Linked DNA regions of Homo sapiens: region 1 is linked to region 2. The links come from fine-mapping of genetic effects on gene expression. A gene starts in region 2. The other region holds a variant in brackets. All regions are shown on one strand. Distances are from middle to middle.

Region 1 (2,916 bases), 53 kb before region 2:
GCTACATTTAAAGGGCCAGGCAAGCACCTCCCTGCTAAGATTTAACATTGCTTGATGCTTTGGTGTTCAAGATTCTGAGGTCTAAGTAATTTCTGTCCTTAACATTCTGGAGTCTGTTTTCCCAGAACTACTCAGGTTCTTTCTTATGCCTAGTATCTTTAGTGTCTTCCTATTCTGAATTAGGAAATGAGGGCTTTTATTTCCTAGAATTTATTTATATTAAAAGTGCTTCCAAGTATAGATATTACATTATATGTCACTATACATTGTTTATGACTCATTATTCTTTATGTAAAAGAACAAAATGAAGAGAAATACAAAATTTGGTAAAAATATCTATAATAAAACACATGGAACTTAATAACACAAGGAGTGAGTCCTAAAGTATAGATTTTTAGTTAGTAATAATGCACTAATAATGGCTCATTAATGTTAACAAATATACCACCCTAATATAAGATGCAATAAAAGGAAGTAGAGTTTATAAGAACTCTTCATCTGTTCAATTTTCTATTAACCTAGTTCTAAAAAAAGTCTATTAATTAAAAAATTTTAATAATGAACTTGACTGTATTAAAAAACCACAGAAAACCTTTTCCCAATGAATCATAGTCTGTCAGGAAAATGACATATATATGCTTCAATGCAATATTCACTTCTTCAGTTTAATCATTTATCCAATAATGATGCTGAGAGTAACTTATTTTCCTTGCATTTTTTTGAAGAACTCAGCTTCCATCAATAACTGTTGATTTTTGCCTAATTTTCTCAAACATCTCTTACCAAGTCTCTAAGTACTTAATTTGAATACTAAGAGAGAGTCTACAGTTTCAGTGCTCACTGAACCTGAAGAGGGTTCACAGTCTCTAAAATTGTTCTTTGCTGAAATTTGTCTCTCCTTCATGGTGTACCTAGCAGAGGATGAATTTGCACTTTTAAAATAAGACTGGAATACTAAGATACACAGGAGGAAAACAATCTTTCATCATATCCAGTTGTTTCTCATTTGTATCCTTTCTCTTTGCCCATTAGGCTAGTAAGTTCTCATTAAACTATAATTTAAGGACATGGTGTTTATTAAAAATGTCATTGCATGATAAAGAAGGGACAAAACTTTGAAAGGAATTAATGGCTTTTCTGTATGATTTTATTTATAATTTCTCCCTAAGTGAAGCCAGTATAAATGATAGGCCTTATTTGCACTTCATTCTCCCAAAGTTTCATGATTTAGACAATTTTATATATAACTCATCTGTTTAGATATAGATCTAAACCAGAGTGAAAACCACTGTTAATGATGTTCTTTCACAATTCTCATAGTTTGAA[A/G]TGAAAATGAAAACTTAGAATTATTTATGACTTTTGCATACTGCTAGAAAAGCACATGGTCTTCAGTGATGATATGTTCTGCCCCTTCTTTTAGAAAGAGCATCAGGTAAAATAGTGGAAGTAGTTTGCTTAAAACAAGAACCAGTGCCTTGAATTAAAATCTTTATCTTTTTCTTCATTTAGATAAGAGGCCATCAATTTGTTTTAACTGTTTGTAGAATAATAAACTATTTGAAACATGTTTAGTCTTCTTTCAAGAGGAGGCATCAGTCTCAGATATCTTGAATTTAAGGTAATGCTATTTGCATTGCCCTTTGACCAAATCACCAAATTATTGCAGTGACCTATTCACACCATATATAGAGAAAAATATTTTACAGGAACAACTTTCCTCAAAAACTGGAAAATCATCAGATGTTTCATTTATAGCATTGATATGAGTGTACTGTTAGAATCAATTCTTATCAGGTTTTGATGAAGTTAGTCATCAATTTCTTGAAAAAAGTCTTTAAACTGGTAGGATTTTCCATCTCTGAAGTTAATATTATCAGCTGACCTGCTGATCATCTTATCAACCAGGGTGCTGCACTCAGAGTAGAGAAAGTAAAATAGCCACTTGTTGCCCCTGGCAGGACATCAAGTTCAAGAACTTTTACATTATCTCCAGGAATCTCATTAAAATAACTCACTAATATAGGAACAGCTTTTTTATTTTTGTGGTTAGCTGAAGCTGTAATAGTGCTGAGACACAAAGGTTTTATCCAATTCTTGTTAAATCTTTTGAGGTCTCGGAGTGAGTTAAAATTTGTTTTTGTTTTTTTTTTTTTTACACTATACCTGTGGTTTGTGCTGATGAAAATGTAAGTTCAAATGCCGTGGAACCTTGCTCAGAGATGTAGTCTAAAGATATGAAGTTATGATTGTGTTCTGTGGTGTTATATGGAATTACCACTGCTTTTCTGAGCACCTTTTATGGGCTATTTCATCATTGAATCATGGAAGATCCAGATCTGACAGATAATGACTGTTTCCTTACATTGAAAACGCAAAAAGATAGCAGATTTGGCTTCGACATTTTCTCACTTCCTACCACACAAGAAGCAAAGTGCTACATGTGGATTGACACTTTATTTATGTGAATATTCCTTTTGCAAACCCCAGTAAATGTTTTATTTTTTCCCGACCGTTTCTCTGCTTTGCAATCATTTTGACCCAAAAATAAAATAGTTTAAATAATTTTACGCACCCTTTGAATATCTCTGAACTACTGGCAGGAGCAGAAATAGCCCCTATAATTATCAATGCATATCATAGGAATCAGCTTTGCCTGAAAATCACTCCACACTTAGAAGTATGCACCTAGCTTCAGACTTAAACACTTGGACCAATATCCATCTTGATGCTCAGAAGAACCCAGCTTACCCCTTTCTGCTCCTCTTTCTTCCTCAACATCTTAACGCTGTCTTTCCTTCACTCAGATGTGTCTAGCCCCTTTCTTTCCTGCCCCCATCCCACATCCCCAAGTGCCCACAGACCCAACAATAAACCCTTCTGGCATTTTACACAGACAATTGCAGGTCACTGTAATAA
Region 2 (2,916 bases):
CTGCCGAGGAAGCGGCTGCTGCTCATTCCAGTAGATCCAACGCCCAGGCTAGGGGGTAGAGACACAGCCCTTGTGGTAGGGTAGGGCACGTCTTCGGCCCACCGCTCCTGGGCGCCAGTGGCTTCAAGGGAAGACCTTGGGACCTGGATAGGGTTCTCCCTCGCACCAGAAGTCATCGGCCTGTGGGGTCTCCAGGAGCCACACCTCTCGAGGCAGGTCACAGGCCGAGCTGGAGGCCTCCTTGGGCCTGACCGGCTCCAGCACCCGGTAATAGTGGCAGTCCCGGCCATCGTCCGGGTCGTAGGGCGGGGCCAGGATGTCCAGGAAGGCGGCAGGCCCTTCCACGGCGTCGATCTGGTGCAGGTTGTCCCGGTGCGGTGTGAGGATGCAGGGGCCGCTGGCCTCGGTGTACTCGGCCCGCGAACGCAGCACGCCCGGCCGCACGGCTTCTCGCTCCCGGGGCTGCAGCGGCGGCTCGAACTGCTGCTCGGGCGGCAAGGCCCGCGGCCGTTGCCCGCCGCCCGCGTCTAGCTTGTCCATGCAGCTGATGCGCACGGTGCCGTACAGCACCTTGAGCATGCCGTGCATGCCCGGGTGGTCGTGCAGCGGGATGGACGTGCCGCTCTTGAGCAGGAACACGCCCAGGCTGAAGCCGTCCGTCTCGTAGATGTGCATGTAGGTGACTGGCGGCAGGTTGGGCGGCAGCGGCTGCAGTGTGGCCTTGCGCGGGGCGATGTTCAAGTCCTCGGCGCGGAGCTGGGTCAGGAGGCTCTTCAGCTTGCTCAGGTTCTCGGGGAAGCCCGGCTGCATCGGCGCCTCCGGGCCAGAAGCCGCGTCGCGATCGGAAGCGCCGCGGCCGCCCCCGCTGCCCCGGAAGGTGAGGCAAGCCTGGCGGGCGATCCGTTGGATCAAGGAGGCCATGTTGTCTCGGGGCATGGTCGGCTGCTCCTCTGCGTGCCGGGACCGGCCCCCTCCTTTCCTCCGCCCCTTGCGGTCCCCGGCGGCCGCCACGGCTGCCCCCAGCCCGGGTCGAGGCGGGAGGCCCCGCAACCACCGGCCCGTCGGGCGCGCGGCACCGCCGCCAACCTCAGCAGCCACGCGCCCGCAACTGCCCGGCGCGCTCGCCTTGAGCCCCCTCTGAGCGCGCACGCGCACGCCCCACACCCCGCACTCACGCTCCGGGAGCAGATAGCGGCCGCGCAGACGGTGCCAGGCTTTGCCTTACGCCCGGCGCTCCATTCATGCGGCCCGCACCTACGACGGTGGCCGGGCGCCCGGGGACCCTGCGGAGCATGCCGGGACTTGTAGTCCGGCCTTCCGCTTGAGCTCTGAGATAGTTCAGTTTGTTGATTGGAAAATAGAGGAACTATTACACATGTTGGGCATAAAGCGATCTTTTTCAGGATGCAGAGGTGTTTTTCTTGTTTTAGAAAAGATGAATCGGGGTGGAAGATTAGTAGCCACTTGACTACAACTCCCGGCACTCCCCGCAGGGTGGAGTGACGCACTTCCGTCAGCTGGCCCCCGGAGTAGTGGAGGCTCTTGGCCTTCATAAGGAAAGGGGCAGGGAGGGTCGTTAACCTTCTGGCGCCGCGCTGGGGCCTGGTTAGCCATGCAGGGTCGCCTTCCTTTGGCCTTGCCCCTGGGAAGGAGGCTGTTGAGTCAGCCTTAGCTCCTCGTAGCGGCCTAGGCAGCACTGTCTCCCACGGGAATTGCAGGAGGGCGCTTTTATAATTTTGTGTTTCCTAGGAGGGGAGGGGGTCCAGGCCGTCCTCTGTGATCATCAAGGTTACTCGGCCCAGCTGGGCCCAGCTGGGCCCAGCTGTTGTTTGCATCAGGACCTGATGACGCTGCTCTTCTGGTTACAGAGCAGTATAGCTTTTTGCTGGAGAGACTTGAGAGGCCATTTACAGTGGTCGTGGATTCTGAACATACTAGTGGTTATCAAATCTTGGTTTGCCTGAGAAGGGGGAGCGGGCTTTTATAAATGCAGATTCCCTGTCGTCACCCAGAGATGGAGTTACTAGATGGTTCTGAGGCATCCTAGGAGAAATAGTGGTGTGCAACAGTCAGTTCAGTCAGTAATTGTGAAATTGTTTCACTACACAGAGGCATCCTTCTCCTTGGCGTGAACTAACTTTTGGCATAAGTAAATGACTAGAAAAGCAAGACATTAGATACTATGACTTTAAACTTAACCCTGAGTTTAAAGTCTTTTTGGATTCCAAAGCTGAACATGGGTTTCTTGTACATTTTGTAATTGGAGTGGTTCAGTGAATCCTCTCCAGTTAAAATAGGCATACTTTTTAAAGTGGATTACATAACCTGGCTAATGAGTACTCACAATATGCCAGGCACTGTGTTAAGTGCATTATATAATGAATGTTATACTATTTAATCCTTGCAGCAACTCTTAAGAGGCAGGCACTATTATTATTCCCAGATTGCAGATGAGGGAATAAGTTGTAGGATAGTGAATACTAAGTACCCAGCAAAGCATGAGCAGCAGAGCAGAAATAAGTACAGTCTTACCAAAAACAGCAGCTTGAATTGGTGTAAAAGCACCAAACGAGAGTCAGGATATTGTTGTTCCAGCCTACTGTGTGTACTTACAAGCTGTGTGTCGTTAGGCAAATCCTACCCTTTTAGGGCCTCAATTTATTCATTTGTAGAATGCCGGTGTTAAGGGAACAAAAGTTCTGAACCCTACTCATCAGAACCCCCTGGAGAGCTTAAAAAATAAAGATCTTGGGGTCACACCTCAGAGATTTTGATTCAGAAGAACTGGAGTGAAGCCTATTTTTTTGTGTGTGGTTTTTTTTTGTTTGTTTGTTTGTTTGTTTTGAGGGGTAACAAGGTTTATCGTGAAGAGCGAAATAACAAAGCTTCCACAGCTTGGAAGGGGACCACAGCGGG

What was found.
Region 1: its variant is fine-mapped to the expression of ADO in blood mononuclear cells (TOPMed, PIP 0.94).

Annotation. Positions count from the first base shown.
Region 1 is chr10:62,855,591-62,858,506 of GRCh38, reverse strand. No RefSeq gene overlaps it. Among named protein-coding and RNA genes, the nearest start is that of EGR2, 41 kb to the right of the region's middle. The variant A/G (reference allele first, on the strand shown) is at 1,327.
Region 2 is chr10:62,803,080-62,805,995 of GRCh38, reverse strand. It overlaps ADO (2-aminoethanethiol dioxygenase), which reads right to left and starts at 1,276. Exons shown (of 1, transcript NM_032804.6): 1 at 1-1,276. The coding sequence starts at 936. The coding sequence ends at 124. RefSeq lists enhancers at 672-791, 1,262-1,521 and a silencer at 972-1,221.